Homo sapiens: one gene and its partners. The protein of the gene in region 2 interacts with the protein of the main gene of each other region in a pairwise test. Each region holds a gene or a part of one and is shown on either strand. Other genes may lie near its edges. The genes, in order: KIAA0408, BEGAIN and DEF6.

Region 1 (3,653 bases), on a different chromosome or scaffold from region 2:
AGTACAGTCATGTTTCTTATTAACAGCCATGTAATTGACTGTGAATAAAATATGAATTGGCATAGTAGGAAGAAAGCTGAAGAAAAGTAACTATTAAGCCCTTCCTCTAAAATAGAGCTGAGAAGGCAGGCATGTGGTGTATGATTAGGGATTAAAGGAGAATATATACTTCTTGTCCCTCTATAGTTTAGAAAATGTGTCCTGCTTGCTCCTTTAACCCCTCTACCCATACTCGGATTGGATCAACAAAGAGATTCCCTGGTCAAATCAGAATCCAAAACTCCAGCGCAATCAGAAACTGACCTGTAGTCCTAGGTCATTGCCTTCCAAATGTTTGGGAAGTTCAGTTCATAACAGTCTCAGACAATTCTAGCATCCAAGCAAAATAACTAAGGGATGCAGGATTAGTCTAGCCAATTTTTTAAAGCCATGTAGTTAAAAGAAGCTGCTGTCTGATTAAATTTATTACTGTCCAATAATTATTCTGACAATTCTATAGAGTTCATCTATGGTAAATATTAGCTTTATCAATTAGCAGGCATGAAATATGCTTTAAACATCAAATTATACCTCATAGAGATAACATCCCTTTCTGTATCAGAGAGACAAACGGGCTGTCATATTTTTTTATCTTGGAGAGTAGCTGTACTGCTGTTTATGTTTTGCTGCCTGTGCTATACAGCTCCATAACTAAACTAAAATTAAGAAATCAACACTTGGAAAAATAATCTCATGCCACAAGCATAAAAGATTGTATTTGTTTAACATTTATCACAAAGTTCTGTATGTTAAATCAGATGTAAATTATTAAGCCATGTACTAGAGAACTGTAGATTCCCAGGTATGCACATATATCTTCAGTGACTTTAAGTGATAATATCTAATGAGAGGATGCAGTGTTGGCTATTAAGATGCTCGTAGTTCCCTGTTCAGCCACTATCCACAGTCATTGCATTTGCTATGGCAAAACCAAGATGTTCATACTTGGATCATTTGAAATTTGAAATAATCCAGATAGAAATTCTGGATAGAACTTATAGACGTCTGGGGTTTTGTTTTGTTTTTTTCCACACTGTAGTCTCCTGCCTGTATCCTTTGGTAGAATAATCAGATAACCATTGACAAGGGCTGAGTACCAAGTAACATAGTACCTTTGTACAAAATAGTTTTCCATCAATAACATTGTTATTTGTTGATTCATACCTCACCTAAATCAAGAAAATTTAAGATGGCATAAAATTAGGTATGATATAAAATATGCAAAAACAAAAATGGAAAGATGAGCTGAAGACAGGAGGAAGGATCATATATGAAATGTACCAGTGAGTCTTTCTAGTAACTAACAAAAATTATCAGGTGCATATACCTTCAAATTCAAATGATAAGGCAAACTTATTTCCCAGGAATAGCACATTTTTCCCGGTTTTGCAACTAAAGCAATTTTGTTTTCACTCATGACTTCGCAAAAACAGGACAGTGTCACCAAGAGCATCCTTAGATTTAACATGTCACTTTTTAGGGTTCCTTCTTATATCCCTCAAGGTCAGCTCAAACCATAATGCCCGCAGAAGTTCAGTACAAATAATTTGGCAGGGACCAAACAATCAATTCATGGCTGCAGTTTGATGCTATCCTGACTTCATACAATAAATACTAATACATTTGTAAGCATTAGAAAAATAAATACACTGTATATTTTTCAGGCATCAACTCTAGTGCTTCTCTCAACTGAGTTATCGGTATGTATTAAGCAGCAATAAATCTATTATATTACTTGAATAATACATGTAGTGTAGATATTGATTGCGGCTGTTAAACATAGAGTCATTTGCTTTGATAGTCATCTGACAGTCTCTTTTGAAGTTTGACAAGCTTTTACATGACCCAAGCCTAAAGAGAAAGCCATTTCTTTCCTCTATTCAGAAGTGAACTGAATGAGTGTGTGCAGGTTCAACTAAGATCTCATAAAGAAGTAATCTGGATTCTACCTTAATACAGACTAATAGATGATCAAAGCCTTGCAGTTCTATTATATCACGTAGGGTATTGTCATATTTGTTTTAATCTGGATGAGAAATATTTTAAAAATGTGTATCACTTTGAGATTTTTTAAAAATCTCAGTAATATCTAGCCCTCACAATGTAATTGACCAACCAAAGGAAACATCTTTTGACTGACAAGTGACTGTTTAGGGAACAAGAATAAGTTGACTTACTATCTGAGATTGTCAAGCATTTAGACAGTTAAATGTTAGTGTACAAGTAGGACCAGACATTTGAAAACTATGACTTTAATGTTAAATTCTTGCATCTCTCTGAAAGCAATTATATAATATGGCCAGTAATTGATTCAGGTCATTCTAATTTTGTGACAGTGTTTCTGTATTTATATACAGATACAGATTTATTTTATTTTTGAATGATTGATTGCTAGTCAAAAGAATTAGCATCCATGTGTTGCCCTACTAAAAGTAGCCTTTATGTTTCATCAAACTTGTTCCAGCTAATCCATATTTTAGAGGCACTATTTGGAGGCCGAAGCATTAATACCCAGGAAGTATATTTTAATATGGCAAAGAGAACTCAAAGCGGTTTGCTTAGTATCAAGAATATTAGCAAAGTGAATTAGGGGAAAAGAAGTTTTAATTTTGTTTTGTTTTTCTTACAGCTTTGCCGGGAAGTAAAGCTTTGGAGGAAAATCAATATCAATGAAAGTGCTAAGATCATTGATCTTTACCATGAGAAGACCATTCCAGAGAAAGTGATAGAATCTTCCCCAAATTACCCCGATTTAGGACAAAGTGAATTTATAAGGACGAATCACAAAGATGGTCTGAGAAAAGAAAATAAAAGAGAGCAGAGCTTAGTCAGTGGAGGAAATCAAATGTGTAAGGAACAAAAAGCAACAAAAAAATCAAAAGTAGGGTTTTTGGATCCTTTGGCTACAGACAACCAAAAGGAATGTGAGGCCTGGCCTGACCTGAGGACTTCTGAGGAAGACAGCAAGAGCTGTTCTGGCGCCCTCAGTACAGTAAGTAAGATGTGATTGGCCTAGAACTGTTTCTAAAGAAATATTTACATTTCAAAGTGCTAACGGGCTGTTGCTTATATGTGTAAAGGCTCTTGAAGAACTTGCGAAGGTGAGTGAAGAATTATGCAGCTTTCAAGAGGAAATTCGAAAGCGGTCTAACCATAGAAGGTAGGCTGGTACATCTGATTATTTTAGATGGGTAAATAAAAAATAATATTGTTTTTAGTTAATGACTCCAAACTGCCTCCTCCTTACATGTAAGAACTAATGAGTTATTAAAATGTACTATCTAGGGTGGGAGATAGAAACTTTAATTTTTTGTTTGCTCGTTTGTTTTTGAGATGTTATCTTGCTCTGTCTCCAAGGCTGGAAAGCAGTGGCATGATCTTGGCTCACTGCAGCCTCTGCCTCCCAGGTTCAAGCGATTCTCCTACCTCAGTCTCCCAAGTAGCTGGGACTACAGGCACACACCACCACGCCCAGCTAGTTTTTTTGTATTTTTAGTAGAGACGGGATTTCACCATGTTGGCCAGCATGGTCTCGAACTCCTGACCTCAAATAATCCCCCTGCCTCAGCCTCCCAAAGTGCTGGGATTACAGGCGTGAGCCACCACGCCAGGCC
Region 2 (3,653 bases):
GAGTCCACAGTTTGCTGGGAGACATGGACCTTGGCCAGTACGGCAGGAGTCAGGAGCTGCTGGGGCTCTTCTCTCCCCTCTAGCCAGGAAGGGAACTCAAAAGTGGCCCTTGCCTCAGCAGGCCTTGAGTCTGGAGGACAGTACAGCAGCCTCTGTGGTCTGCCTGGGGTGGGGATCAGCCAGGGCCCAGCTCTGAGCCAAGCAGGGGAATTGCAGTCATTGGTTCAATCAGCAAGCCCTGAGCCCAAGTCAGGGATGGAGATGGGTCAGGCCTGGGCTTTGCCTGGGGAAGCCAGACATGGAAGCCTGGTCATCCCACAGTGGGTGCATGCTGGGATTAAGAGGTGCATGAGGTGGAGAAGCAACGCAGGCATGCTGAAGGGGATGCATGGGTGGATGATACTGTATGGAAGGGAAGCACTAGCAGGATAGAGCAGCGGATGGATGGGTAGAAACCTAGAGGGATAGGCTGGGCGCAGCGGCTCACGCCTGTAATCCCAGCACTTTGGGAGGCCAAGGTGAGTGGACCACCTGAGGTCAGGAGTTCAAGACCAGCCTGACCAATATGGTGAAACCCCGTCTCTATAAAAATACAAAAAAAATTAGGTGGGTGTGGTGGTGTGCACCTGTAGTTCCAGCCATTTGGGAGGCTGAGACAGGAGAATTGCTTGAACCCAGGAGGCAGAGGTGAGGTTGCAGTGAGCCGAGATCGTGCCACTACACTCCAGCCCCTGGGCAACAGAGTGAGACTCCATCAAAAAAAAAAAAAAAAAGGAAGAAAAACGAAAGAGAGAGAGAGAAAGAAAGAAAAAAAGAAAAGAAAGAAAGAAAGAGAGAAAGAGGGATAGATGGACGGGAGGAGAGGTTGATGGATGTAAGTAGCAAGATAGGGATGGGTGGGTGGACAGATGGAAAAGTTGATATGGATACAGGACTGGATTGATAGAACAAAATATCAATGGATGATACATGGGTGGAGGGAGGGAGACTTCTGATACACAAGGCAAGATTGGTAGATGAATGGATGGAAGGATCTTTGGATGGATGGATGAAGGAATGGATACATAAATGGATACAGGTAGTGCCTGGATGTTGGGATGGGTGGATGAATACTTGAATACATGTCCATGAATGATGGACAGAGGAATGAATGGACACTGGAAGAGTGAGTGCATGGATAGGTGATGAGTGTATATTGACGGATGTGTGGATAGAGGCCTGAGAAGGCAGCTCAGTGCACAAATGGATACAAAGCAATGGATGCATGGATACGAGACACAAGTAACAGAGGAATGGACAGACATGGAGGGATGGGCAGGCGGACAGATGGAGACGGGAGTGAGAGGACCAGTGAACAGATGAGTGCCCATCAGCGGGTGAGGGACACAGAGACAGAAGGATGTGTTGGTGCGTGGATGGCACCTGTAAATGGGTGAGCGGTCACAGGGGTGGATGGTGAAGGACGGTTGGTTGAATGGGTGAAGCTTCAGGTCACTCATGCCTTGATTTCCCAGATGCCAGTGTTTTGCTCACAGACCCCCATGTCCCTCTGCTTCAGAGACATATACTACGCAGGCGCAGGGTCAGGAGGGGGCTGATCAGACAGGGAGACTTAACCCCACCTTGACTTTGGTGGGAGAAAAGCCAACCCAAACTAACAGCTATTTGGCCTTTCCAGGCCCGCTTTGCCCTGGAAGACCCACTCAGGAAATAAGGAAGAAGCAGTGAGACCTCTTCGAAAGGTCAGCGGCCAGCCGGGGTTCCTACAGGGGCGTCCTTGCCCAGGGATCTCCCTGGAAGACCTGGACAGCTGTGTACATGTCCTATCTGAGGAAGAGAACTGGGGCACCTGTGTTGGGTGCTGGGGACTGGGAGACATCAAGACCATGGCTGCCCTTGGAGATTCTGAGGCCAGCGTGGAAAATCCAGGGACAGCGGGGCAGGTGATTAGGAGCACAAGTGTGCGGATTCCCAGAGCCTCAGTGTCCTCAACTGCAAAAGGGGAATAATAATAGACACTTCTGACTGGGCGCGGTGGCTCACGCCTGTAATCCCAGCACTTTGGGAGGCCGAGGTGGGCCGATCACGAGGTCAGGAGATCAAGACCATCCCGGCCAACATGGAGAAACCCCATCTCTACTAAAAATACAAAAATTAGCTGGGCATGGTGGTGCGTGCCTGTAATCCCAGCTACTTGGGAGGCTGAGGCAGGAGAATCGCTTAAACCGGGGAGTCAGAGGTTGCAGTGAGCCGAGATCGCGCCACTGCACTCTAGCCTGGCAGCAGAGCGAGACCTGTCTCAAAAACAAAAGAGAAAAAAGAAAGAAAGGAAAAAAAATAAACTTCTGTGCTGGGACGAGGGGAAGGTTGGTGAAGGTGACCACACCTCTGCTGGCCTATGCTGCGGCCCCTGGCGCATGCCCGCACCATGGGGGTTTACCCGAGACCCCTCAGAGCCCAGTTTCCTCCTCCGTGAAGCGGGGTAGCTGCTCCTAGCTTTCAGGCCTGCTGTAAGAATGAAGCGAGGTGACGTTTGGCACTGTCAGCAGAAGCCCGGCATGCCTGCCCACTCGGCAGGGTCCTCCCAACATCCTGTGGCCTGGTCTTCCTGCTCCAATCCCAGCAGACAGTGGGCAGCCTCATGCCCCTTCTGTCCGAGCTGGCAGGGGCCAGCTTTCCAACCACAGGGGCAGTGTGTGCCAGGCAGCAGGAGAGGGGCTTGGGCATCTGGAGAGGAAACGGGTGTGAGTGCCTGACCTTTGGGGTTCTGTCCTGGGCCTGACATGCCCAAGCCATGTGACCTCCGACGGGTCACTGCACCTTTCTGAGACCCTGCTTCTTTTAGCAGAAAATAGAGCCTTTGGCTGTCCTGATGCACAGAGGCGGGTGGGGATTTGGGGTGATGACGCATGCACAGCACGGAGCTTGGCACGCAGGATGGGCTTGGGAAGCAGGACTGAATCAGATGAGTCAAGAGGCAGGGGCTGCGGTGCCAGGAGCCGGAAGCCCCTCCAGGAGAGGTTGTCCAGGCTGCTGGTAGGTGAGCAGGTCCAGGCCGTGAGCCCACGGTAGCCGGCAGCATCCTTAGAGCCTCAGGCCCAGGCGCCTGAGAGCCAGCAGGTTGTTATGACAACGGAAACTTGCCTGATGCAGCCTGAAACTCTGGAAGCAGCTCAGAGGACTGGTTGGCCAGAGCCCCCAGAACACTCCTGCAACCATGCGTGCTAGTGAAACGGCCACATCAGAGCCCCAGTGCTAATGAGTCCTGAAGTCCCTTGCTCATGCCACTTCCCAGCACTGCCATGGGCTGAGTACTGCCCCATGCCCACCTGACAGATGAGGAGGGGATGTGGCTTGCCCGCAGGCCTGTTGGAGTGTTGGAGAAGGGATTTGAACTTGGATCTGCCAGCCTCCAAGTCTCTTTCCCACTGGTAATAGGGCAGGGGCTGAACGGCTGCTGCTGGGGAAGGGCTGTCCGGGTGTAGAGGGGCGACTGTCGGGGACCATAGGGTGGGAGGAGGACACTGTGGCCTCCCGAGAGCCTGAGATCCCTCCCCTATATTCTCATCCTGTTTCCAGTCACAGTAGGCCCACACCAGGCTGGGGATGTTTGTGAACTGACAGCCTGAACCTGCTATGCCATTCATTCAGTC
Region 3 (3,653 bases), on a different chromosome or scaffold from region 2:
AAAGGAAATACTCCCTTCCTGGGATCTCCCACTTCCCAGTTTGCCAAGGAAAACTGAGCCCCAGGAGGACACTGAGGCAAAGTCTCAATACTTTCTCCCCCTCCTCTCTGAAAAGAGAATAAAATGAAGGCTTGGCACACACACCATCTCCGAGACAGTGCTAGCTCCTGCCTCCTAGGAACTGATTCCAAGGTGAACTGCTGGTGGTGGAAGAAGCCCTTCAATATAGCATGTATTGATTGCACTTGATGTACAAAAGAGGACATAGATGCTGAGGGACATAAAGATGAACAGAGACCTTGTCTCCAGAGTTCACAATCCAACGGAGGAGGGAGACTTGACATCAGTATTCTAGTAGGAAGGCAACCTGTGAACCAGGCACATTTAGTTTCAACCTCAGCTCTGCCATTTACTCTTAAAATTTCCAAACCTCTGTGTCTTCACCTGAAAAACAGGCTTAATAATATTTGCGTATATAGGTGATTGTGAAGACTAGAAATGGGGTATAAAAAGCGCTTTGACTGGGTGTAGTGGCTCATGCCTGAAATCCCAGCACTTTGGAAGGTCCAGATGTGAGGATCACTTGAGGCCAGCAGTTCAAGGCCAGCCTGGGCAACATATGCAGACCTCTGTCTCTACCGAAAAAAAAAAAAAAAGTTTTGGCCGGGCATGGTGCCTCAGGCCTGTAATCCCAGCACTTTGGGAGGCCGAGGTGGGCGGATCGCCTGAGGACAGGAGTTCGAGGCCAGCCTGGCCAACATGGTGAAACCCTGTCTCTACTAAAAATACAAAAATTAGCTGAATGTGATGGTGGGTGCCTGTAATCCCAGCTACTTAGGATGCTGAGGCAGGGGAATCACTTGAACCCAGGAGGTGGAGGTTGTAGTGAGCTGAGATCATGCCACTGCACTCCAACCTGGGTGACAGAGTAAGACTCCGTCTCAAAATAAAATAAAATAAAATAAAATAAAATAAAATAAAATAAAATAAAATAAAATAAATAAAATAATAAAATAAAATAAAATAAAATAAAAAACAGTTTTAATTAAATAAACCACCTCCTACAGTGACCGGCATATGGTAAGTGTGCAATAGTAACTAGTGACTTTTTAATCATTTACACTGCTTGTGACAAATGCTATAATAGAATTACCCCAAGGAGATTTTATTTTCACCAGATTTCAGATTTCAACCCCTTTATTCTAATATCATGGATTTGTTCAACAAACCCACATTTCCCCTGCACACCATTATGACCACTATCCCTTCTAAGCCTTGCCCTCTCCATGTCATGGACCATTTTTCATGACCCTTCTTTGAGCCCTCTCCTCTCCCAGAGCAGACACGCTTAGGTGATAGGCACACTGCAGCCAGGACACTGAGTCTTTGATGGAAACCATGATAAATTGGCAGCTTCTGCCCTGGGGTGGCAGACTAAGTCCCTGCAAACCCTGCAAACTGTCTAGCATTGTGGGAAGCACTTGGGCTTTGGAATCTGATGGAGATGGATTTGAACTCCAAGCTCTTGTTCAGTGTGGGTCTTTTGGCAAGTTACTGAATCCCTTGAGCCTCAGTCTCCCTGTCTGTAGAAAGAGGACACCAATACCTAATGAAGTGGCTAAGAGTATAACTGCATGGGTTTGAATTCCAGTTCTGCCAGCTGTGACCTTGGGTGAGAAATATCTCAGGGCTGCAGGAGTTTTCATTTGTAAAATGGGTATATGAGTAGTTGTTATGGTGGTTAAGCAAATGATATGTAAAGTACTTTAGCTCAGTGCTTGGCACATAGTATATAAGTTTTAGTTATTACTGAACTGAACAGTGTGTGTAGAGAACTCAGCCAGGATGGGGTGAGGACAAGCAGAGAGGTGGGGAGCAGTCCTCTGGCCCAGTTTTGGTTGGGGTGCAGAAAGACACACTGCCACTCTACTCTATCCCAGGTGCTGTCCCACAACCTGTACACGGTCCTGCACATCCCCCATGACCCCGTGGCCCTGGAGGAACACTTCCGAGATGATGATGACGGCCCTGTGTCCAGCCAGGGATACATGCCCTACCTCAACAAGTACATCCTGGACAAGGTGGGGCCCAGCTTGTAGGGAGCATCTGTAACCTCTCCCCACTTTTCCAGCCTGGCCAGCAGCCTAATACCTTGCCACTCCAACTCTTCGCCCCTGCCATAAACTCCTACTTCTGCCTGCTCTGTCCGTGACTGCTGTCCCATCACGTCCCTCACATCCCAGCCACCTGCCCCCTTCCTGTCCCCCTCAATTCACCTTCAATGTCCCTCATCTCTAATGAGGTGGGCCCCACCCTACCCATAACCTTCCACCGAATCCCTGCCCGGCCCTCCTCCAGCTTCCAGGGTTCTCCACCCTTCCCAGACTGTCCCCCTGAACTCCCCCTCCAACTCCTCCAATCTGTCACTGTGTTTCCAGGTTCTTGGCTCTTAGCTTCCTGCTGGGTTTCTCCTTCTTTGTCCTCTGGGCTGAAAGACTAGAGTTAATCTGTTGTCAGGGGGCCTGGGTGGGTGTGGGTGTGTTGTGGAGGGTGGAGTGGTTGGAACCAGCTAGTTACCTGGTAATCAGCTCAGGGATCCCTTGAGTTAGGGCCCTGGACTTGGCCAGGTGGGGAGCAGGGGCATAGATGAACCCAAGAAACCCAGCTGGAGCCTAGTGTCGTGGTAGAGCTGAGATATGCAGTCAGCTGATTTGCAGCCCTGGTGGCAGGTGGAGGAGGGGGCTTTTGTTAAAGAGCACTTTGATGAGCTGTGCTGGACGCTGACGGCCAAGAAGAACTATCGGGCAGATAGCAACGGGAACAGTATGCTCTCCAATCAGGATGCCTTCCGCCTCTGGTGCCTCTTCAACTTCCTGTCTGAGGACAAGTACCCTCTGATCATGGTTCCTGATGAGGTGAGGGTGATGGCAGCCCCAGGGACTGAATCACTTGGGACCAGACCTAAGCAAAACCATGAATGAGACCAAACCACCTTTGGTGCCTTCCCATATCCCCTTTCTTTCTTTACCATCTTCCCATGCTGGTATCTGTCCTCACCCAGCTGTCTCCAGATGCCTAGAACTGCCTGTGTCAGAGTAATTTTGCCTTCTTCCAGGAAAACTGAAATTACACTTTCATGAGGGTTCTGCTGGTCCTCACTGTAGGAAAATGATCTGCAAATTCTGTTTACACAGAGGTCTAAATGCCAGATACATTACTGAGCATTACTGGCAATCTAGGAAGGGTGCTTTTTTTTCCTTTACCTTTTGCCACTTCTTCCAGGACAGGAAGGATGCTTTACAAGGCAAGGGGAGACCTTTCTGAGACAGGAGGTTACTCTGGTTCCAGATTTTCCCTTTCTGCCTTTCTTCTGGAAAGCCAGGACAAACTCAGCTAAGAGACCCAGGGATAGGGCATCCTGGGAGAAAAGGCTGGGAATCTGGTCCCTATCTCCTTACTCCTGGGTGAAGCCAGGGAAGGCATTTTCCCATCCACCTGTACCCTCCCTCTTATCCTCACTTCCCTCCCCTGCCCATTTGGCCTTGTGACCCTTTAGTCCTCTTGGTGGCTGTGGAGATGCCAGGGTGACTTTAGGTCTTTAGAGTGGGGTTTACAGGAGAGGGGGCTTCTGTACTTACAAGAAGCCCTAGCAT

The links.
Region 1: the proteins of BEGAIN (region 2) and KIAA0408 interact in a two-hybrid assay, tested with the Homo sapiens proteins (one large-scale study listed by BioGRID and IntAct).
Region 3: the proteins of BEGAIN (region 2) and DEF6 interact in a two-hybrid assay, tested with the Homo sapiens proteins (one large-scale study listed by BioGRID and IntAct).

What each region holds. Positions count from the first base shown.
Region 1 is NC_000006.12:127,449,368-127,453,020, reverse strand, and holds part of KIAA0408 (uncharacterized protein KIAA0408), read left to right. Parts: intron 1-1,703; exon of another isoform or gene 1,704-1,739; intron 1,740-2,668; coding exon 2,669-3,031; intron 3,032-3,119; coding exon 3,120-3,199; intron 3,200-3,653.
Region 2 is NC_000014.9:100,580,813-100,584,465, reverse strand, and holds part of BEGAIN (brain-enriched guanylate kinase-associated protein), read left to right. Parts: intron 1-3,653. UniProt on the Homo sapiens protein: May sustain the structure of the postsynaptic density (PSD).
Region 3 is NC_000006.12:35,307,730-35,311,382, forward strand, and holds part of DEF6 (differentially expressed in FDCP 6 homolog), read left to right. Parts: intron 1-1,940; coding exon 1,941-2,081; intron 2,082-2,729; coding exon 2,730-2,915; intron 2,916-3,653.